Homo sapiens: one gene and its partners. The protein of the gene in region 1 purifies or fractionates together with the protein of each later gene. This does not show direct contact. Each region holds a gene or a part of one and is shown on either strand. Other genes may lie near its edges.

Region 1 (8,611 bases):
ACTTGTGAATCATTCTCTGTCACTATAGTTTCCAGAGCCTTGCCAACGCAGCAGTGGGTTCAGACTTACCAAGATCCAAAAGGCTGGAAAGGGGATCTGGAGCCATGACCCATGCCTTGGGACCCACCAAACCATGACAGTGACTATTTCTATGACAAAGACATGCTCTTCAAAGTAAATATAGCCATATTCTGCCTTAGTGCCATGTTCTCTCCCATCTCTCCAAAGCAATGGCTGCACTCTGAAGGTGGGAAGAGTGTGAGAAGAAAGAGAACCAGGCCACAGACCACCAGGAAAGCAGTGATTGAAAGCAGCAGCTCTAGATTTATCTTATAGGCTCTGGAGAGTTATTCAGTTATTTACTCCACAAATATTTATTGAGCCAGGTACTATTCCAAGTATGCAGGCTACGATACTGACACAGTCACGGCCTTGACCCCATGGAGCTTAAAGTTTAGTGGGGGAGGCAGGTATTAATCAAATAAGCATCCAGACAGACACAAGGGTACAAATATGCACTATGATGGAGGAGTAGTAAATACTACAGGAACTGTAGAAACAGGGAGCAGTAAATCTGGTCAGGGAAGTCAGGAATGCTTCCCTTAGCAAGTGCCAAGTGAGGATAAATAGGAGTTCACTAGGTCTGGAGGAGAGGAAAAGAGAGGGAAACATTCCTGGTAAAGAGAACAGTGTGTGACAAGGTCCTGGGGTAGGAGGGAGATGTTGAATTGGTTCAAAAATAGAGGCAGGGAGCAAAGCAGTAGCATCAAGGTTTGAGTCCCCAGCATAAGGTAACTTCCTGTGTACACCCCTCAGTTTTCTTTCTCCTATAGAGAAGGCCTTCCTCAGCATGGAAGGAGACTAAAGCACACTGTCAAAAACTAGGAGTGCTCAGGAGAGGTGAAACACTACCAGCTAAAAAAACAAATCTGATTTACCAATAATACCTGGCCAATGTCCTCTTGAAATATCTGTAAAATTAAGGAACTCACTACCTCTGGCAACAATGAATCAGGAAAATGGCACAGTATAAAAGACCTTTAAACTTTTCAGGTAGAAATACATTTTAATGCAGGTAGAATTAAGAGATTGATGAATATGTTGAGAATTACTATAAATCTGCTTAGATACCAGGTATTTCACTGTAATTTCATATACTAATTTTTTTGGGGGGAAAAGGGCTAAAGGAAAAAACGGTTAAAGGTAGTATCAGTGCAGCACTATTTTGCTTTGGCAACTCCGTTAGCCTGTTTGATCACTTAAGGCAGTTTCTTGAGGCTTCTGAATTCTCTGTCACCTTGCAAACAAGTCACTGTAGCTTTCTATTTGTAAGGCACTTTGTAATCAATCCTTAATTGGCCTCCCTACCCCACTGAGAGATTATACTCATTCTACAGATAAAACAATAGATAAGTGAGTTGCCCAAGGGCACAAAACAATTCAGTTTTTACTTAACTTTCTTATCACCATCTCCAAATAGAAGACATACAGGGCTTGTCCAGCCACAGCACCAACCCTACTACCCTGCAGACCAATCTTAACCCCCTGATGCAGCAGAGGAAGGGACTGCAGTTAGTTCTGTTACCTCCTCTATGCCTTCGAAGCCAACAATGATAATGTCTGCACCGTGTTAGAGACACTGGCACTCCTAACCAGAACATGAACTCAAAGTGGAATAAGAGCACATACAAAGTCACAATGACTCACAAGTTAAAATGTCACCATCCCTAGGGAGACTGCACCCTCAACATACAAATACTCCCCTAAAACTTCCTTTCATCCTCAACAAGCAGCCAAGGCATAGGTCCCCAGAGTTGGCCCCCGCAGTACAGCACTGCACAGTACTGTAAGGCATCTTAAGTGTACAAGCCCTTCTTCACCCCATGCTGAGACCGCCAGCATCTAAAGCACCTAACATAGGTTACAGCACACAAATATTTACTGAGCACGTCTTCCCAACTGGCAAATAAGGGAAACGGATACTCCTTTCGGAGAGTAGTGCATTTAAGAGATCAGTTAGGCCAACTCCTCATTTTACAGAAGGGCCAAAGAAGGGCAGAGAATCACCCAGTTACATATGGCCTCGTCTCCAATCCAAGTCTTTGGGCTCAGTTTAGTTCCACAAACATTTTATATGTGCCTACTATGTGCCAGATACGGTGGGTGGGAGGCGCTGGGGACACTGAGATGAGCAGGAGATGGTCTCAGCTTCAGGGAGCTCACAGCCTGGGGTAAAGAACAGTTACAAAACAGTCGGGCAAGTGCAAGGACAGGCGCTTGAGTGCTTAGCCAGTGTTTTCTCCACACTGTCCACTGGGTGTTCCCCATCTGGAAAAGAAGGACAGCAATATCTACTTCCTGCAAATAAACTTGTAGTGAAGACTGATGAGAAAATGAGTATGGAAAATGATCAGGCTCACCCAGAAATGCATTATATAAGGTATTGCCATACCCCGACACTGACTCCAAGGATTCAACAGTGTTTCAGGTATCCGTTCAACAAAGAAGCAAACAAGAGAGGGATGGGCATAAACCCAAGGAAAACCCCAAGGACTGCGAGGAACTGGAGGAAACAGCTGGGGTGGGGGTAGGGGTGTTGGGTCGAGTGAGACGGCCCTGACGCGGAGAATGGAGGGCCCGCAGCGGCGCAGAAGAGGATGGAACCGAGACGAAGAAGTTGGGACACCAATGAGGGACAGCAAGCAGAAAAGAATGGGGTTCCCTTGGGGCAGGACGGGGCTCGCGGCCGGGCCCTTCCGGCCGTGGCCGGGCAGGGGCTGAAAGCACCGGGCACGGGAGGAGGAAGCGGGCGGGCGCCGAGGCCGACTGTTTTGCCTGGGGACCGCTTGCACCCGCAGGGAGGCTCGGGCAGGCGCCCGGGTCCTCGGGCTGCAGCATCTCGCCCGCCGTGCCTCCCCGGAGCCGAACACCAGCCCGCGCCCGAGCCCGCAGCGCGGACTCCCGGGGGCGCCAACGACGCCGCCTCACCTCGGGTTGAAGTCCTGGAAGAGGCCCCTCAGGTTCATGGCGGAGAACTTCACCGCGGCGTCCTCCTCCTCCTCCCCCGCACCCCGTGCTGCACAGCCTGCGCCTTACAGCGGGTTCATGGCGCCAGCGCCAGCCGCGTCCACGCTGCTGCTCCCGCTACTGCTGCCGTCCCCGCTGCCGTCGCCGTCGCCGTCGCCGCCGCCGCCGCCGCCGCCGCCGCCGCCGCCGCCGCCGCCGCCCGGAGAAACCTGAGCCACCGCCCCCTGCCCCTCCTTCCGGGCTTCCGTACGAGGGCCGCGCATGCGTCCGGAGCCCCGCCCAGAGCGCTCCTCGCTGGGAGGTCCCCATCCTTGTGTCCGCACGCGACCGGCGGAGGAGATGGCAGGGGGATGGAGGCTGGGAGTGAGCAGGGCCCCGAGGAAGGGGATGCTGACGGGCTGAAGGCCTGCAGGGAGGGAGCGCGCCGCCCGGGAGTCTGGCGGGCAGATCTTGGCAGACACCTGTCACCTTGGCCCGCGCTACCTTCTGGAGATTTTCCCCAGTGACGACTGAGCCCTGGGAGTAGTGACAATGAGTGAGACGTTGCATTTTTGGCGATGTCATCCCAGGCTTCACCTGTCACATCTGTCAACGACTCCAAAGTTTGGGTCCCAACTTCCCTTCCAATTCCCAAGCCAGCGTGTCCAGATATGCTGGCTATTCCCTACTCAAGTTACCTAGCACCAAAGTCACTTCCCGTGCCAACCGCCTTCCCCTCCTGGGTTCCCTTTTTCCCTTAGCAGCAGGCCTATTCGTACGCAGGGGGGTATTCAAGCAGGAGACGTGGAAATCATCCTCATTTTTCTAACCCAGTTCAGAGCCTCCTTGGATCCTGTCTAAACTTTGTGGTCACTTCACACCTGACCTCTGCCTCCACTCCAGGCTGCCCTACTTACAAGTACCAGGTTCATCTTCCTTGGGCAAGTCAACATCTTTGAGTCTCAGTTTTTCTCCTCCGCAGAATGGAAATGATAAAAACCTCTTTTCTAAGCGTGTTAGGAAGATTCAGTGAGATCGTGTGCATAACACACTGCCTGGTACATGCTAGGTGTACAAAGAATGCTGTTGCTATCTGGTACTCTTTCAGGTGTCAACCTCCTCAAGGATTTTGTTTGCTTTTGGAATCCAAGAGCAGGACAAGCTCATAGCAGGTGACCTAGTTTACCATCTTCACTTTGGGCAGATTTAAGTTTTCATGAGCACAACAATGCCTTAAACATTAGTCTACTATCATTATGGATAATAGTCATCCTTTGTTGCAATAGCAGAGTTTCACAAATGACAATTTTATACTGTTTAGCCCCAAGGGCAGCTTGAGAGAATCACAATTGCGATAGTCATACTTAGTCTTGATGTATCACCTTTCTTCTGAGAACGTAAAAACATATCATAAGTGGTAATTAAGCTTCCCAACACCCACTGGGAAATGGATATTATTATATGAGCTGATTTTAAGGTTGAGTAATCCAAATCAAGTTTTCATCTGCTGAAGCACCAGGACCCTGTCCCAGACTTTTTCACCCATCTTCCTTTCCCATCCTCTGGGTAAAGTCCAATGTGTAGCCCAGAGGAGGTTCTCAATGAACACTCAAATACAGACGAGGAATTAAGGCGCAGAGAAGCTTGTATAACAGGCCCTGAGCGAGCCAGCAAGTAAGGGTGAAGGAGCACAGATGAAACTCAGGGTCTAGCTGAACCTGCAGCCCATACTGTTAGAAAGAGGTGCTTGCCAGTGGTCAGATTGGACAGCACCATCTTCATTACCAGTGACCGTGCCCCAAGCAGGCATGAGAAGATGGTCTGCCAGTTCAGACACTTGAATAACAGGCATCACTGCCCTTTCAAGAGCTTCATAGATAGAGACCAGGCAGGCTCCTCAGAGTCCAGAATCTTGAGGGCAGACGCTACTTTAATGAGATCCCAGGGAGTCTGGGAGCTGAACCACTGCTCTGCAGGCCCACAAGTTCAATTTTAGCAGTTCTTCCAGAGTTGACCAGGCCCTGGAAGCTATCTAGCAAAGGCAACAGGACACTGATGCACAAATTACTTGTCAGTGTGTTCTTTTGCTCTGACAAGGTAAATTGCCAAGAGGAACATATGAACCTGTCTGTGAGGAAATACAGGAAGAACTGGACTTTCCCAAGGCTTCACATCCCCAGTCTTCAAGAGGTGGATTACCTGGACTGATTCTGGAAGCCCAACCCTTTATGCTACTGGTGCTCTCATGGGGAAAAAAAAGCCAGAAACCAGATGGCCATCTGGTCCTCTCTCCAGCAAGTGCAAAAGACCCTACTGACAACCTGCTGCTCACTTCAGAGCCCTCACTCAGTGTCCCACCCTAGATGGAGGTCCAAAGCCTCAATGACCTGTGTAGACAGACCCACAAGTGATCCTGACATTAAAGAAAGACCCTGGGTCATATGCAGGCACCAGGAGTGCTGGGAAGCTTAATTACCACTTATTAAATGTTTCTACATTCTCAGAAGAAAGGTGATACATCAAGGCTAAGTATGACTAGTGGAGAAGATGACACCCACATCTTCTCCACTAGCAGAGTTTGACTTTATCTTTTCCTTGACTTGCCAAAAAATTCCAGGGCTATCTTGCTAGGGGCTCCCAACATTCTTCACTCAAAGGAAAGAAATGGCTCTGGATTGAAAAAGTATGACCCCCAAATAAGCCAGACAGCATATTCTTGGTGACTTTGGGGTGGGCTTAGGTTACAGTGTTCCAGAAGAATCAGTGTATATCTGACCATGGTTTTAAGGACTAACTTGGATTTGTACCACCCTTCTGATAAGCTGGTGGCTTGTCCAATTCAATATTCACATTGGCTTCAATGTGGTGATATAGGATGCCTCTCCTCTGAAGAGCAAGGCACTGGTGAAGAGAATCCTGGTGAATTTAGACACTTGGACTGGGGAGACCTGGCATAGGGGAAGAAAATGGCCGTGGAACCGCCCTCCACACACCACCAAGGCTCCTTCCCTGGCTGCAGCAGTAGAATGGAGAGAGTGTGGAATTAGTAGATTTGAACTCAACACCAGTTTCACCCTTGCTCCAGTGGAGGGAGGGCCAGCTGGGATCCAGTCCCGTGCAAGGCCTATGGGACTATAAAGAGCTTCTCGGAGGTCAGATTGACAAGTTCTTTAGCCAGGAAACATGGAGGTGCCAGCCTGCAAGGCTTTCTTAGCCTGGAATTCCTCACCCTAGGTTCCCTAAAGTCCACACTTTGAATGCCACCAATTAGAGAATTGCTGAAGATGCTGGGAATTAGTCCACCTGCAGAATGCAATCTCCTGCTTCCTGACAGAACCCTTTGTTTCAGGCAACTTTAGCCTAACTTGGATACACATCTGAGATCTCCCTGGGAGGTGGGTGGGTCTGGAGTCTAGACAGGGATTTGATTAAATACGGGGCTAGATTTAGGGGCTTGGAGAACTGGAGGAGGAGATTGCAGGGAGGCAACTGAAGGGACCACAGAGGTAGTAGCTGTAGTTCTGCTTGGACTTGCAGCAACCCCTATGGCCTTCCAGAGCCCAGAAGGAGCCACCTCCTCAGGGAGTCTTCCCTCAGGTAGGCAAATTACAGTTACTGAGAGAGAAGAGGGAGGGAGGACAGTCCCAAGGCCCCAGTGGACCTCCTGTCACCCAGGGTAGCCCTGGGAGTGGGTGGTTTATCATCCCTCATGGAGCAAGCTTTCTGCTAAAGGAAGCAGGGGCCATTTCCTGTTGGAAGGCAGAATGGGGAGCCTTTGCCTGGGCCAGCAAACCACCACGGTATCCCTGTGCTTCTCCTCTGGACCTCTCCTGATGCCAGGGTTTCCAGGAAGCCTTCCCGGCTGTGCCACACTCCTCCAGTGTGCTGTGTATGCAAAGCCCAGGTCAAGTGTGTGTGGCCAAGCACACGGGGCAGACAAAAAGGCCCATGCTTGCCAAAGGTCACCAACCAGCTGCCCACATGATTCCTTTTTCTCCTTGTTCCCAACCTGCTCTCATTCCTGAATCTCCACTCAATGCTTGTCTTTCTCCCTTTCTGTTTCCACACTGTATTTCTGACACATTCCTCTGGGGCCCTCTGCCCTAACTAATCAAATGTGCTCTTCCTCATCTTGCCTTCCCCTAATGGATCCTTTCATCTTGGGTAGCCTGTAACCTTCACTCCTTTAGTTGCATTCATCTGACATATGTCTTCCAGAGTGTCTGCTTTGTGCCGGGCACTGTGGAAGGCACTGGGAACACACAGATATGAATAATGAAAACACAGCATTGTGCACGATAAGCATTGGGGATGAGGGAACCGCTGAGCTGAAAAAATAACATTGTAAGGTAGGAAGAGAGGAAATGAGGTTCCAGGCAGAGTAAACAACAGTTGTAAAAACACAGAAGTCAGTGAATGGAGGCAGGTGCACCATTTTGGAGAACAATATTGTCTGCAACCATCCTCCCTTCCCTTCCCACCACCCCACTCTGCCTACAGGCAGCTGTGCGTGTGCTCTCAGCTCTCTGTGCTTGGAGGAGTCAGTTTTGGAGTCCCATGATGCTTCCCACTATGCCCCTGTATTCTTGGATCCTGGCATGCAGTAGGTGCTCAGGCAATGGTCATGAAATGAATGCTGATGTTGGACAGTCACAGGGCACAAACAAAAAAGCAGTTCTTCCTCATCCCTTGCCTCAAACCAGGCAACTTGTGTCTGCAGGAAAAATGACCCTTTCTTTCCAAGTTTCTAATAGCTGCAGACATTATGTGGGTACCCACACTCCCACTTTCCTACAAATCATTGACATGTTGAGGTTTTTTGTGTCTTATTATAAAACAACTTATACCATGCTTGTACAGTTCTAAGATGTGAGATGAACCATCTATTTAATAACAGATTTTCAAGGGTAAAACCCTGCATGAATCAATGTACTTATGCATCTTAAGATCTGTACTCTTTCAGAAATATTACCATGTACAGGAGAAGGTGCATCTTAGATGTTCAGCAGTAATTGCTCCTTTTTATTCATCATAAGAAGGCCTACTTTGGGCCATCTTATAATCGTCGTTATGAGTTGAATTGTACCCTCCAAAATATACCCTTCAATATGCTGAAGTCCTAATCCCCAATACCTGTGAAGGTGACCTCACTGGTAATAGGGACTTTGCAGCTGTAATAAAGTTAAAATGAGGTCATTGGAGTGAGCCCTTAATCCAATATGACTAATGTCCTTGTAAGAAAAGAGAAAATGAAACACAGACCCAGAGAGAAGACAGCCATGTGAAACTGAAGGCAGAGACTGGAGTGATGCTGCCACAAGCCAAGGAACACCTGGGGCTACCAGAAGCTGGAATAGGCAAGGAAAGATCTTCGCCTAGAGCCTTCAGAGGGAGCACAACCCTGCCAACACCTTGATATTAGGCACTGAACCTCCAGAACTGAGAGAGAATTAATTGGTACTGTTTTATACCGCACACTTTGTGGTATAACACTTCGGTATGGCAGTCCCAGGAAACTAGCGCAATCTTACACCAATGCTCCGAAGTTGTGCTATGTTTTGGTTTGGCTGTGTCCCCACCCAAATCTCATCTTGAATTGTAGTTC
Region 2 (7,972 bases), about 49 Mb from region 1:
GGAAGTTAGCTGTGGTTTCCGAGGTTAAGTGGTTTCTGACTGGGCAGGTGGTTTCTATTATATAAATGGTGGCTTACATAGAATGAGATGTTGAGATCATCTTATTTCACACAGAACATTAAAGGACCATTATAATTAGACTCACTCATTCATTCATTTATTCCATTAGCATTTACTGTGTTCTTACAAGTGCCTGATGCTACTAAGCTCCATGGGGTCAGGGTACCTAATAGAAAAACCATAATTAAATCATAATGGCTTCTCTCTCACAAGCAATCCGGGTGAAGTTTTAAAGCGATGACTTAAAAATGAAAGTCTTATTTCCCTATAGCTGTTTCAGTTTATATATTCATTTCTGACACATTAGCCTTTTGTTTTCCTTTTTAAATTAGTAAGGTTTGGTTTGCCGCATCACAAAGTTTCAACCTAGAAAAGTAGCAAACTTAAAAAAAAATCAAATCTCAAATTATCTTATATATGCTGTGAGGAAAAGTAGAAATGGCATTAATATCTTAGGTTAATTTTTTTCCCTGCAAACACAAACAAAAACCCTCACAGAATAGTCCAAAGGAACCAAAGTTTACTGTTTCATGAGAAAATGCATATATTGCTTTGTGTCTCTTTTTTATTTTATTTTATTTTATTTTTTTGAGACGGAGTCTTGCTCTGTCACCCAGGCGGGAGTGCAGTGGCGCGATCTCGGCTCACTGCAAACTCCGCCTCCCGGGTTCACGCCATTCTCCTGCCTCAGCCTCCTGAGTAGCTGGGACTACAGGCGCCCGCCACCATACCTGGCTAATTTTTTTGTATTTTTAGTAGAGACGGGGTTTCACCGTATTAGCCAGGATGGTCTCGATCTCCTGACCTCGTGATCCACCTGCCTCAGCCTCCCAAAGTGCTGGGATTACAGGTGTGAGCCACCGCGCCCGGCTCTGTGTCTCATATTTTAACAGGTTTGTTTGGGTGCATCACCAACTTGGATTCTGACAGGAGGTTGAAAACATCAAGTCTCAAAGATTCTTTTGTGAGCTCTGAGGAAAACCAGAAATGGTATTTATACCTTGTATTAGGTATTTATTTCCACAAAAGTTTGATGCTTACAACATAAACCCAACAACCCACCTGGAATAGGCCATGGAAATCTAACAAGCTTTTCACACTTAAGATATACCTAGAGATTTCTGCTTCTCAAAATGTCACCTTGCAGTGAGCAACCTGGTGCCTGGAAATAAGGCAACCCACATCAATTTTGGGACATCAAAAATGAATTATTTTAAACATAGATATATAGTGAAGTAAAATGTAAAATTCTCCAGATTTCTATAAAACAAAACTTAAAAGCTCAAAACCCCCAGCCTGTGCCACTAAGGGAAACTCACTCCCTCTGCCATTAGGATTGTCACCATGGAAATGAGCAGACCTACTGCCTCCAGTGGAAACTGGATCTCTCTCTCCAATCTAGTGATCCCTCTTTCTAACCAGCTAGTCTAATTAGCAAACTATTAAAGACACGTGAACTTTCCTTTGTACCAGTTATCATTAGGTGAAATGTTTCCTCATTACTTTCAGAATTAAGTATACAATTCAGTATGCACAAGCACACATCAGCTATAAGGGCGTTTTCTAACTGGCTATCCAAAATAAACCCATCTTAAAAATAAACAAACCAATCCACCTGACGAGTGATGTGTGGTGTTTTTCCTCTTTCTACATTCTATATTTTAATTTTCTATAATTTTTCCTTTTTAATAATGAGGGAAAACTTTTTTTTTTTTTCTGAGATGCAGGTTCACTCTTATCGCCCAGGCTGGAGTGCAGTGGTGTGATCTCGGCTCACTGCAACCTCTGACTCCTGGATTCAAGTGATTCTCCTGCCTCAGTCTCCCAAGTAGCTGGGATTACAGGTGCTTGCCACCACACCCAGCTAATTTTTGCATTTTTATTAGAGACGGTGTTTTACCATGTTGGCCAGGCTGGTCTAGAACTCCTGACCTCAGGTGATCCGCCCGCCTCAGCCTCTCAAAGTGCTGGGATTACAGATGTGAGCCACCATGGCTGGCTGAGGGAAAACTTTTTTAAAAACTCTAAATATAACCTTAAAACATTCTTCAAAACCACTGCAGTGAAAAATATGTATTTGAAAATTGCTGATAATCCTTTAAATATTTGCTTCTTTAATCTCAGTAGCCAAAAATCTGATTTGCTGTACTTGAGTCACTATTTTTCAACTTAATTTTCTTATCACCTTATCCTATGTCAAAAGTCACACATCAAATGTTCTAATGGAGAATATCATTTTTCTGCAATAACTCCAAGCATTTTAAAACACATACTCAAAATTCATGATCATTTAACTAGTAGTTTTTGCCCAGGTTTTTTTCTAACTGTAACTGACTCCCCCTTACCATCAATTCAAGGACTGTGGCAATCAGACTAGACAGGTTCTACTAATGGATGTATAAAGAGACTCAAAACCAAAGAAATAATTCCCTGACTTCAACTCAAATTTTAGTAATTATTATTTTCCTTATTAATTTCCCTATTATCCTGAAGATACAGGTTACATCCCTCCCTGTACAACTTTTTAATGCAAACTATACAATCAAAAAAGTCTGATCTCTAGGAGAACACTAGTCATATGCTACTTTATAACATGGAATATAATTTTTTTCACAGAGAACAGTTTTTTTTAATATTTGCACTTTAAGATTTTTTTGTTTACATTAAGTTCTGGGATACATGTGCAGAATGTGCAGGTTTGTTACATAGGTATACATGTGCCATGGTGGTTTGCTGCACCTATGGGAACAGTTTTTTTTAAACAAAAACATTTTTTTTAATACAGAGTTAAGGCCGCAGGCTTATATTTCACATCTAAAAACAGTACTCTGAATAGAAATGTAGGGCTTAGCTTTCTCAGTGGAAAACAACAACCATTCCAGCAGATTTTCTACAAGTTAATTTAAACACGATCTTTTTAGAGGAAAGCAGTATTTATTGTATAAGAGTTATACTTATTAATCAAAGGCACAAACGAAAACTAAGACTTAAAGTTGACCATAATATTGACAAGTCATATCAACCTGGTACCAGCTAAATTTAATGAAGATAAGTTCCACTGAATTCCTAAGGAAAATACAACAATTCCGACACCATTTAATAATTAGAAACTTTCAAACAAGAGGGAAAGTATGAACATCATAATAAATGCCTCAATTTGGAGGCAAAGAAATGTAAGTTGTGTGCTGAAACCTGATGTATCACAGAACATCAGTAGTCCCTTCCAGTCGTGGATGCCTTAGACCCAAGGCCTTACACTGTTATCACCATCTGGCAACCCTGATGAGGGATGCCATCTATTGACTGACTGAAATTAAATTACACAATGTGACTCTCTGCCTGTCAGCAGAACAGAGAGTCATAAAACATTTTAACTTCTTGGTGCAAATTATACAATCAAACCAGATAACCTTGACTGGGAAGGAGCCAGTTCAGAGGGGTGAATTTTCTATCACACTACATCAATAGCAAAGTCAGAGGAATCAATTTTCCATCTTGTAACACTACATCAAAATAGCAAATTCACAGTGCCTTCCAAAGGCCCCCTACTAAGAAAAATAACAGTCAAGAGGAACACAGTATTACTTCATTTACAATTTACTAGCTCTTCCAGTGTTTCAGAGGGATACAGGGTTTCAACGATCTAACATGAATGGGATAGAAGGTGGACTTAGAACATAGCAAACATACATCTTGATTGAATCAGCCCACTGCGAGCACGGATCTTGATTGAATCAGCCTATTGGTGTAGTTTTAGGTCTACATACATCTTGATTGAATCAACCTACTGGTGTAGTTTTTTGGTCTATCAGTAAGTAGTGTTGTCAGTTCTCCAGCCAAGCAACTTTCTAATTCACAGGGGGGACCCTAAATGTCCTAAAATTAAAGAAAAAAAGTTAATGTACTTGTTACCCAAATTTCAACATCTGTATTTGCTTACATACATTCTAATCTATTCCTGCTAATGAAGACCTTCCTATGTGTTCCTAGTCAGTGGCTCAAGTAAAATGCAAAGTGTGCCCTAGGGATCAATTCAGCCAACAACAGTTCTCACAGTATTTTACCAGTCAAATACTAACGCCATTGAAACACATGTCTTCCCAAAATCTGGTTCCTTATTAGACCAGATGAGTTTACGGTTTTAACAAAAGCCCACCAAAAACATCTTTTTACCAAGAAAGCCACACTCTCAACAACTGATTAAGATTGTGGTAAATGAAAACTACGAAAAGGACTAAGGAAAATGTCAATATTGGTGAGGAGCAGAGTGCACCTGCCAGGGAACCTCACGAATAAGGTCATTCTTGGGATTCTTTGTTTCTCCTCTCTCCAGGCCAAAACATGTTAAAAAAGGGACCACTTATGATCTTTAGGCTGACATGTGTATGTAAATATATAAACCCACACGGGGAGTCTTCTGTTGCATAACTGTAGAGAGCATGCATAGATAAGCTGTAGCTAAGTCATTACTTTCTGACCATGCCCTGTGTATAGAGACCTAACCTGCCTACACAGGGTTTACATAGCACCAGCTAGATTTAAATATATTACTAGACAAGACGTTCTTGGCAAACTTAGTCCATGCATCACATACACAGGCTAGAATAAATATCAACACTAACAGAGCTGAGGACCAAAATGAACGCACCTTAAAGGTAGAGAGGAATAGGCCCACAGATACATTGGGTTACACTATCTCATACTGGTTATTTGTTATGGCACGAGAGAGGCAGTAGGCGAGAAAGATTCCAATCAGCTAGAAATAAAATAGGAACAAAATTAAATACATACACAAAAGAACTTGAACACCTCAGACTATATTCTCCTCTCACTTGTAATTCGCTTATAATTTTCGTCCTTGAGTTTTTCTAGAGTTATGTTTAATACTCTGCAGCATCTAGATCACATTCAAAGAATCTAAGTGAAGTTTTATTGCCACTGTGACCCAGAATTTCACAACTCTCACCAAAGGAAAATCCAGCAAACTCACTCAAGGAAAATTCAGTCACGAGTTTTGAAGAAACTTTTCTTACTCTCATTTCCCAGAAAAAACAAATACATGGTTTTCAATAAGTATCTTAACAAGTGAAATCTCCATCAACGAGGGCAGAGATTTCCCTGGAAAGATCCACAGCAATGCTACAATAATGAAAATGTTCTAGAATCCCTGTACTGTCCGATATAGTAGGCAGCAGCCACATGGCTACTAAGTATTTCAAATCTCCAGCAAACTGAGGTTTTAATTTTATTTAATAATTTATAACAATTCAAAGGTGGCTAGTGGCTACTGCATTAGCATAGATTTAGATATAGCTTTGCTTACTACTTTAAAAATATATTAAGACGAAACTTGAATTAGTCTTATTTCTAGTGTTTAATATAAAAAAAAACGTTCAGAGCCACAAAACAAACTTCATGCTACAGTGGGAAACACAACTTGGGAAACACAATTTGATCTACAACGTGGAATCAACCCCAAACAACTGGTGCATAAGGAATGTGGGGGTGGCATCATCTAAATTTTAATAGGTTGGAACTTGTATACAACTCATCAGGCAGTTGCAGCCCAGAAAAGATCCTAATAACATTTTAGAATCTTGACTGACCGCAGAGAGAACCAAGGTTCCTATCTAATGTTTTGTTTCATGAGCTATGATACTGGAAAGTTGCCATAACTAAGAGGGCACTGAGTCTTTCCACAGTTAACTGCTTTCAAAAGATATGCACTGCTACAAGTTAATTCTAAATCTTACTTTTTTTCTTCTTTTTTTTAATTATACTTTAAGTTCTGGGATACATGTGCAGAACGTGCAGGTTACATAGGTATACACGTGCCATGGTGGTTTGCTGCACCCATCAACCCATCATCTACATTAGGTATTTCTCCTAAATAAAGTATTTTTATACTGTGACCAGTAACTGAGAGTTTTGTGAAAATGCGACTTCCCTAAAAATGTCCTCACTATCCAGTCCCCTGAAGCAAAAACTTATAAGCCTTAAAAGTGAAAATCTCGCTGCATGCAGTGGCTCACGCCTGTAATCCCAGCACTTTGGGAGGCCGAGGAGGGCGGATCACTTGAGGTCAGGTGTTCAAGATCAGCCTGGCCAACATGGTGAAACCCCAACTCTACTAAAAATACAAAAAAATTAGCCAGGCATGGTGGCGCACACCTGTAATTCTAGCTACTCAGGAGGCTGAGGTGGGAGAATCGCTTGAACCCAGGAAGTGGAGGTTGCAGGGAGCTGAGATGACGCCACTGCATTCCAGCCTGGCAACCGAGCAAGACTCCATCTCAAAAAAAAAAAAGTGAAAATCTTCTAGCTTACACCTACAAGAGGGATGAAATATTTCCTAAGTAACTACAAAAACTTACTTGGAAGCAAGCAACTCCAAAGGAAATTCCTGCAACGACTCCCATTTCTGACTCTATAATGGTCATCACCTTTATAAAACAACCCTAATGGGAGGAAAAAAACAAAGATTAAATACAGCACAAGCAGCCTGTGCTTTTCTTTATGGTAATAAATACTTCGATCATATAACTCTGCAGAAAGATATATTTATGGTAATAAATACTTTGATCATATACCTCTGCAGAAAGATGTATGTATCATAGCCTTTGATTGTCATTTTATTGAAATCTATTCTCTTCCATATGTTCTCAACAGAACAAATAATTATTCCCAATTATTTCCACCTTCTGGATTATATATTTAAAAGTGTTACTTCACTTGAACCCAGGAGTTCAAGGCTCCAGTGAGCTATGATCACAACACTGTACTTCAGACTGGGTGACAGAGAGAGACACTGTCTTTAAAAAAAAATACTAAATAATAAATAAACAAAAAAGTGTTACTTGCTGGCCGTCTGAACTCAATTCTTACCCGCCCTATCTATTTCAGCTTATATTTAAAAATTAAAAACTGGCCAGGTGCAGTGGCTCACGCCTGTAATCCCAGCACTTTGGGAGGCCAAGTCAGGTGGATCACAAGGTCAGGAGATTGAGACCATCCTGGCTAACACAGTGAAACCCCGTCTCTACTAAAAAATACAAAAAATTAGCCAGGCGTGGTGGTGGGCACCTGTAGTTCCAGCTACTCGAGAGGCTGAGGCAGGAGAATGGCGTGAACCTGGAAGGCGGAGCTTGCAGTGAGCCGAGAACGCGCCACTGCACTCCAGCCTGGGCGACAGAGCAAGACTCTATCTCAAAAAAAAAATTAAAAACTGGGTCAATTTTGCATTCAGTTAAGTCTTCAAATATTGCCAAATAGAAAATTTTAAAAGGCACCTTACTTCATTGTTTACTTTGTCTGCATCTCTCTGTGGAGTACAATCTTCAAGTTTACAGCAACTCTTAGGAAATCCTTTTTCTGAGTAATAATTAGTATCTGTCCAATCTCTATAATCGGTGACACCACAACAATGCAACTGAAAAACCCAACAAAAGCATTTACAGTTTATATTACAACTTTGTAGTCAAACATTTAACCTAATATCCTCTATTGCAATTTGTGCTCAAAACATTTACTAATCTCAATGATCTCTCTCCTCAATTGATTCAAGAGATGAGCACTGGGTCCCTGATTAGCACCATGCATGACAGTTTTGTATTGGCCTTACTTTCCTGCTATAGTTGGTACTAACTGTACCTGGACTATGATGTAAGTGGGGAAGGAAGAGAACAGGTGCACATGTGAGGAAAATGAAACACGTCACACTTCTTTCCCCTACAGGTGGATAACATCTAGTAGCCAGACTCTGCTCTTTTCTCTGAGGCAACAGGGAATGTGTTCCCCTCTAGGTGGTGGTTACCACTTACCGTATTTTGGATCTTGTCTACTGCATGGCTTCTATAATCTCCTGTAGAGTTATACTGCTTCAAAGCCTTCTCATAATTATTCTTAAAGCTGT
Region 3 (7,972 bases), on another chromosome or scaffold:
ACTCCTATGCTCAAGTGCCTCCTGCCTTCACTTCTCAAGGTGCTTGAATTACAAGTGTGAACCACTGCACCCAGCTTGTAAATGTGATTTGAGTTGTCAAAGTACTTCTAAAAAAAAGGCTGGTTTAAGTTTGACATGGAGCAACATTGAGCCGGGGAAAGAAAATACGTAGAAAATAATGCCAGTGGCCAGATGCGGTGGCTCACGCCTGTAATTCCAGCACTTTGGGAGGTGGAGGTGGGCGGATCACTGAGGTCAGGAGTTTGAGACCAGCCTGAACAACATGATGAAACCCCGTCTCTACAAAATACAAAACTTAGTCGAGTGTAGTGGCACATGCCTGTAATCCCAGCTATTTGGGAGGTCAAGGCAGGAGAATTGCTTGAACCTGGGAGGCGGAGGTTGCCGTGAGCTGAGACCACGCCATTGTACTCCAGCCTGGGTGACAGACTGAGACTCTATCTCAAAAAAAAAAAAAAAAAAAAAAAAAAAAAATGGCCAGTGATTCTGGAAGGTCCGAAAGACATTACTTTTCCCATACAATACTGTGGGAGAAAGATGAGGTTTGATTTGAACTTCCAGGGTACTGTTGAATTCTTAACTCCAAAAACAGTGCCTGGCACAAAATAAATCACTTAATAAATACTTGTTGAATGCTGAGATTTAAAGGAGAAGAATGTCATTGAAGCCCTCTCTTTTCCCTTCTTTTCTCGACAAAGGTTGAAAAAAATGATGACGACCAAAAGATTGAACAAGATGGTATCAAACCAGAAGATAAAGCTCATAAGGCCGCAACCAAAATTCAGGCTAGCTTCCGTGGACACATAACAAGGAAAAAGCTCAAAGGAGAGAAGAAGGATGATGTCCAAGCTGCTGAGGCTGAAGCTAATAAGAAGGATGAAGCCCCTGTTGCCGATGGGGTGGAGAAGAAGGGAGAAGGCACCACTACTGCCGAAGCAGCCCCAGCCACTGGCTCCAAGCCTGATGAGCCCGGCAAAGCAGGAGAAACTCCTTCCGAGGAGAAGAAGGGGGAGGGTGATGCTGCCACAGAGCAGGCAGCCCCCCAGGCTCCTGCATCCTCAGAGGAGAAGGCCGGCTCAGCTGAGACAGAAAGTGCCACTAAAGCTTCCACTGATAACTCGCCGTCCTCCAAGGCTGAAGATGCCCCAGCCAAGGAGGAGCCTAAACAAGCCGATGTGCCTGCTGCTGTCACTGCTGCTGCTGCCACCACCCCTGCCGCAGAGGATGCTGCTGCCAAGGCAACAGCCCAGCCTCCAACGGAGACTGGGGAGAGCAGCCAAGCTGAAGAGAACATAGGTGAGCAACCGCGAGGGTCAGATGCAATGGGTGGATGGGGAAGGGAGTTGCTATTCGGAAGACCAGGCCACCTGGGTCATTGAGGGAGAGGAAAAAGTCTAGAAGATGTTTTCCAGAAATCAAGGGAAGCTGTGCTTAATTTCCCAAAGTGGCAGGACTAAGAGCTAAGGTTACATTCCCAAATATCTCCAGAGAGGACTACCAGAGAGGACTCAGGCAGGTCTATGTAGCAGCCAGTACTAGAAAGATCTGGCAATTACCTTAATTGGATTGATATATGCAGTCAAACTAGATAAATCTGCTTTAAAAAAGTATTCTGTGTGCTGATAGACTTAGTTTAATAAGTAATTACTGAGGCTACATATATTTTATGGATGGGAATTAGCTAATGTGATTATTTGGCTCTAGAAAATGCCTGGTATAAATACAGCCATCCTCTTCTTGATCCAGATTATATAGTGTGTGAATTGTTGGCAGCAAAAGTATAATCTCAGACCACCCTTCCCTATCTCACATTATGTTTCTGGGCATTCTCTCCACCATCGGTTGGTGAGTAGTGTGTGTATATGTGGGTATGCTCAGAGAATGTTAATTGTAACATTAATTGGGGTCAAACATAATTAGGAAAATAAGTCTGTCGATGTTGCCAAAAACAAAAGAAAAACCCCAAATACAGAATATGTTGTGAAGTCAAACATAAATAATCATTTTATTATTGAAGACACGACTTTCTACAATATGCATAAATAATTGAGGGTTCCTATGATTACAAAAAGGTACTGGATTCTCTTCATTTTGGAGCTGTAACTTGAAAGTTGGAGGGTTTTCACTATTACTGCTCAATTGTGCAGAATTGGAATAGAATATTCCCAGAGCAAGATAAATTCAACAGAGTTTCGTCCCTGGAGACTAGATCCTTCCCTCACCCCAACACATCCACAGTGGTAAAGGAGGCCAACAGTTTCCATGATCTTTCTCTAGTCTAATATGACCGATAAATACTTTCCAGCCCCAAAGATCCTCAAAGATAAAGTTTCTTCTGTGTCCATTTAAAAGATTGGGTTTACTCCTTTAGAAGCGCCTCGGTTTAACCAATGATGTTTGTCATCCAAGGGTCCAAATACGGACTGAACCACCGTGTGCTCCTTGGGAGAAAACCTACTCCATGAGAGTGGTCTGAGGAATGTTTTGGCATCTGACCATCAGATTGAGAAAGTAATGACTGGACTTTTACCTTGATATACATTTCCCCAAAATCAGATACTACAATATGGTAGGTGACTATTCTAGATATTTTAGGTCTACTTCTTTCATCGTATCCCTAAAATTCTATGAATATGATGCCAGATTATATTAATTAACATTGTTATTGGCATATTCCAGCTCTGGATAAATCGTATGCTTCTTTTCATTTTGAATCTTTATTCTAACACACAACTGTCCCAGGGGCCAGACATTGAGGTTTAGAAGATGGGAATTTTTCCCTGGAAAAGGTAAGGCATGTGATAAAAAGTGGGGTGTGGGTTTTAATTTACTCAGCAAAGCAAAACTTAACTACTTTTCTTTAGATTTAAGGTTTGAGCCTCAGGTATGATGTCTGGAAATCACTTTGCATATCCACAAGTTACTTAATGTGTCATTTTCATACATCTTAGAAATTAATCATGCTTTTAAATACAGAACATATCTGACATGGCACAGACCATATTTTTTAACTGGGATTTCTAAAGTTGTGGGAAACAGAGAAATGATGTGATTTTAGGTATATGCTTATGATTTGGGTTGATAGAAGGATTTTTTGAATCAGTAGGAAGTCTAATATATAATATATTTTAAAAGAAATTAAGTTTTATTATGTTTCAGGTTATGATAACTAACTGCAAATGAATTAATGAAATATTTTATGTAGTAAGTTGTCAACAAATGTCAAATATTGAATATAAATTGATGAAATTTAAATTATAGATAATAATTTGTTCACTCATTTATATATTTCTCTTGCATATTTGCTTATTCTATTCATTTATTTGATTAAAAATGTGTCTGGTCAGTGAAAGCAAACAGCACTCTTCTCTGCCTTAAATGTTACAGATTCTGACAGAAAAATATCTTAATTAATCAGACTTTATCATGGGCATTCAAAGGTGATTGAAACAATAGGTGAAGTTCAACTTGAAGGTAATCACAAAGGGCAATTTACAGTGTTTCTTAGAGTTGGGTAGGTACTGTCCTCTTGGTTAGATTCAGAAATGCTGCCTGTCGTTTCTTTCTGGGTTGAGGTATCTAGTAGCCTTGCCTGCTCTTATGTGACAAGCACAAATTACTCCGCTGTGATGAATCTCATGGGATCACAGAAGGTAGAGGTGACAAGGAGATCTATCACATCATATCAGGTCCAAATTCCCAGGTGCCCTGTACTGCATTTCCTCTGCCTTCCACTGTATTTCATTTTAACCTGGGTTAAAGTAGCAGCATCTTCCACTGGGCTGTACTGTTCGGAAATGGGTGGCTACCATGGGTTGCTTTAGGATTCTACAGCTGCCTGGAGGGGCGTGGACAGACAATCTAAGAGGGTGCAACAGGGTTAAGGGGAAAAATAGGTACAAAGAGAAAATCTAAGAAAATAATTTCTGTGAATATCAGGCTTAAAAATTTTAGATATGATTATTACTTTAATACCTATGGAAATGTTGGGGGAACTATAAATGTTATTTATTTTACTTCTTTTACTATTTACTACCAACCTGTTTGTTATGGGGGGATGTCATTTGTATTTTGATCTTTGAAGTTGGTTGGTTATTGTCATTGTTTTAAATTCTCCAAGTATGTCCACCTCTCCCTAGTTTGCCACGCTGCCTGCCCAGCTTTTTACGTGCCTGGGACCAAAACATTTCAGCGCACCTCTGACAATGATTCCTTTAGAGGAAGAGGAGTGTTCAAAACATCTGTGGGACACTGCCCCATTCAGTCATGAGTAGAGAACTTTGAAGCCCCCTTTAGTGATTATATCCTTGGGGTCTCCTGCTGAGCAGTGTCACTGTGCTCATTGGCTCTCAATGAAGGAATTCTCTCTTACGTCTCCTCTTCTCCATGGTAGCCTATTGATTTTCCCCAGTAGAGGACTCTGCTGTGGTCATATTCAGTGATGTGGTACAACCAAGGTAACCTATCCAGAGGGCTATCAATCAGTGATATTGATTGGGTGGCTGCCACAGGGTCTTTGACTGATGCTAGTTGGAAGTGTAGCTCTGAGTGACTTTAAATGTTCTGTATGTTGATCTTGGCTGCATTTTATTTTCATGGTCTCAGTACATCTTGCAAATTGATGCCATCAGTAATGATCAAGAAAAGAGGGAGGAGTTTCCTATTGCCATTCCCTGAATAGAAAAATTAACTTAGTGTCTCCCTGCTTCTCTTCCTCCTCTTTTTTATCCTTCCTTCCTCCCTCCTTCCTTCCCATTCTGTCTCCTTCTTTTCTATTCTTCCTTTCTTTTTCCCTTCCCTTTATATTAACTTTCTTCTGTGCTAGGTATTGGAGTCACAAAGATGAATAAGATATGATTTTTTGTCCAGGTGCGGTGGCTCATGCCTGTAATCCCAGCACTTTGGGAGACCGAGGCAGGAGGACTTGAGTCCAGGAGTTTGAGACCAGCCTGGGCAACAGAAGGAGACCCCATCTCTACAAATAATAAATAATTAGCAGAGTGTGGTGGTGTGTGCCTGAGGTCCCAGCCACTCTGGAGGTTGAGGCAGGAAGATCACCTGAGCCCGGGAGGTCAAGGCTGCAGTGAGCCATTATTGTGTGCCATTGTACTCCAGCCTGGGTGACAGAGTGAGACCCTGTCTCAGAAAAAGTAAACCAAACCAAAACAAAAACAAGATGTACTCTTTTGACCTTAATGAATTCTTACTTGGTATGGGGGTAGTATGAAATTCAGGGAATGACATTGAAAACAATCATATTCATAATCTCAATTAAATTCTGCAGTTAGGTACAGGGCACTTCCCTATGCCAATGCACTTTGGACAAAATATGAATGAGGCAGTGCTTCAGGGGCTAAGATGCAGTCTGCTGCTTACTATAAAAACGTTGCATATAATGTATGTCCTGATACTCAAATTATTAACGAAAAGAATAGATGCAAAATTTAGAATTTCTAGAATGATAATTGTGTATAAGAAAATGAAATACCCAGCTCATATTTCTGAATTTAAAAAATTATTTATGTTTCCCAGAACAATATTTTCCCTAAGACCCAAGGTAACCATCTATTTTTCAGCTTTCCAAAAGATAGGTCCACTTCTACCAAGCTGTGTGTTAGATGTGAGATTTTCCAAGGATATTTACACTTATTTGGCAGGGTGCCTCGTGAGCGGCTTTGATTTGAAATGTGGTTTCAACCACTTCCTAAATTTATACACAACTCACAAAGAATGAAAATTTTGGTTGTGGAAGTCCATAAATGCTGTTTATAAAACATGGGCACCCTGTCAGATACTCAGTGGTATACCTCTTAAATACTGTTGATTATTAAGCTTTTATGGAGCACTTTTATATTGCTAGAGTAATCATTTTTATTGGCTTTTCTTGACAACAGCCCAATGTCATTTGATAATATTTTTCTTTCTATTTTTATATTCCAAGAATAGGGACAAAGTAAATGGATATTCTGGCCACAAATACAGCCAGTGACAAAATGAGGATCAAACTGATTGAACTCTAAATCCTCACCTTAACTGTAGCCCTACAGTTCTTTCTCTCTATTAAGGTGTTATGTTTTGTCTCAGTTTCTGCATTTTCTTTTTTATCTTAGCTGTTGTTGTGATCTGATGCTTTTGGGAAATACCAACCAGGACCTTACTAGGATATTCTCTGTCCTACCTGCCTTGTAATATAATGCAGGGAAAAGATCTTTGAACTGAAATAAAGAGACCAGGGTTCTAGTCTCAGTATTTCTACCAACCAGATTTTAGGCAAGTTATTGCTTCTCTGGACCTCATTCATCTCATCCTTAGGAAAAGGGACTACGATAGTTGGTTTTTAAGGTTTTCTTTCAAGAGTTAACATATAAAAGTCTAATAATAGGTAGCACTTAATGAGCATTTATTAACTGCCAGGTCCTGTGCTGAGTGCTATGTGGGGATTGTTCCATTTAATCATCATAACCACTCTGTGGTAGTAATGTAGTAGTGTAATTTTCCCTTCCCTTTTTACAAGGAGAAATCTTAGCTTTAGGGAGACTATGGGACTTAATCATTGTTGACAGCTAGCAATGTTGAACCAGAAGCCAAACCCTGAGAGTCTGAGAGGTCACATGCTGAACCCTGACACTTATCCAAGTGCTATTCTGGAAGAAACAAAGAGGAGAGGAATGTCTAAGGACCCCAACAATGTGTTATAATATAAGAACATCTCTCTTCTTTGGATAATTGGATATTCCAGACTCTTGTCTGGGAATTATTAGGGATAGCATTTACAGATGGGTGTCTAGTAACTACTATAATTCCTGATCATAATTCCCTCACAGCCCTATCACCCCAGAATTATTAGGGATATTAAACTGTTTCTGAGTCTTAGATTCTTATTTCAAAAATGCTCCAAGTACTGTTTTATTAGACCTGAGAGAGCTATAAAGATCAGCTGAAAATGATTGTTCTTAACAGATGTATTACTGACTCCATCAAATACATCAGTTATGCCAGGAGGATCTGAAAACTAGAAATGGAAATTTTCATATCTCAATCAGATGAAAGTCATTTTATTTATTGTAGGCAATTGCTACCCTAAGTTTAGCTTATCAGAATCAGTATCTTTTTTATATTCTTGCTTAGGTCTACCCCCCTTTGGCAAGTGCATTTCCAAAGGATCTGGTACCTTTATAACTAAAATATTAAAGAACTTAATAGAAGAGACAAATTAAAGAGCAATCATTAACTCTTTTTTGAGACAGAGTCTCGCTCTGTTGCTCAGGCTGGAGTACAGTGGCATGATCTCAGCTCACTGTAACCTCTGACTCCTGGGTTCTAGTGATTCTCCTGCCTCAACCTCCCTAGTGGCTGGGATTACAGGCACCTGCCACCATGCCTGGCTAATTTTTGTATTTTTAGTAAAGACGGGATTTTACCATGTTGGTCAGGCTGGTCTCAAACTCCTGACCTCAGGTGATCCGCCTGCTTCAGCCTCGCTGGGATTACAGGTGTGAGCCACTGCGCCTGGCCCTTTTATTAACTCTTTAGTTAAAAAAGTAAGCAGACAAAAGACAAGATGAAGGAATGTGTTGTGGAGTCACATGACTCATATTGTTGAGGCCATTCATTCATTCTTTCATAGCTTTTATTAAATTGTTACTGTCACCTCATAAAAGAATCTGGAAAACAGACATGTTCTTCCCCCAATTTTAAAGTTGTGAAACTACATTTGGAACTAAAAATTAATATTTCTTAAAATATAGACTATTATTCAGATATTAACACACATTCATAAAATATTTTTCTTTTTTCTCTACATACATGTGCGCGCGCGTGCGCGCGCGCGCGCACACACACACACACACACACACACACACACACACACACACGACAATCTTGCAATGGTAGACCAAGGAGGCATCTTTGAAGTGTGGGACATATGGCTTCTTAGCCAACCATCCTCACT

The links.
Region 2: the proteins of TMEM185A (region 1) and TSPAN6 purify together in Homo sapiens (affinity purification with mass spectrometry; 3 studies listed by BioGRID and IntAct, with this or other methods). This does not show direct contact.
Region 3: the proteins of TMEM185A (region 1) and GAP43 purify together in Homo sapiens (affinity purification with mass spectrometry; 3 studies listed by BioGRID and IntAct, with this or other methods). This does not show direct contact.

Annotation. Positions count from the first base shown.
Region 1 is NC_000023.11:149,628,555-149,637,165, forward strand, and holds the start of TMEM185A (transmembrane protein 185A), read right to left. Parts: upstream 3,239-8,611; 5' UTR 3,027-3,238; coding exon 2,989-3,026; intron 1-2,988.
Region 2 is NC_000023.11:100,626,051-100,634,022, forward strand, and holds the end of TSPAN6 (tetraspanin-6), read right to left. Parts: coding exon 7,881-7,972; intron 7,490-7,880; coding exon 7,355-7,489; intron 6,519-7,354; coding exon 6,435-6,518; intron 4,817-6,434; coding exon 4,748-4,816; 3' UTR 4,709-4,747; intron 3,937-4,708; coding exon of another isoform or gene 3,928-3,936; 3' UTR 1,058-3,927; downstream 1-1,057.
Region 3 is NC_000003.12:115,675,294-115,683,265, forward strand, and holds part of GAP43 (neuromodulin), read left to right. Parts: intron 1-719; coding exon 720-1,317; intron 1,318-7,972. UniProt on the Homo sapiens protein: This protein is associated with nerve growth. It is a major component of the motile 'growth cones' that form the tips of elongating axons. Plays a role in axonal and dendritic filopodia induction.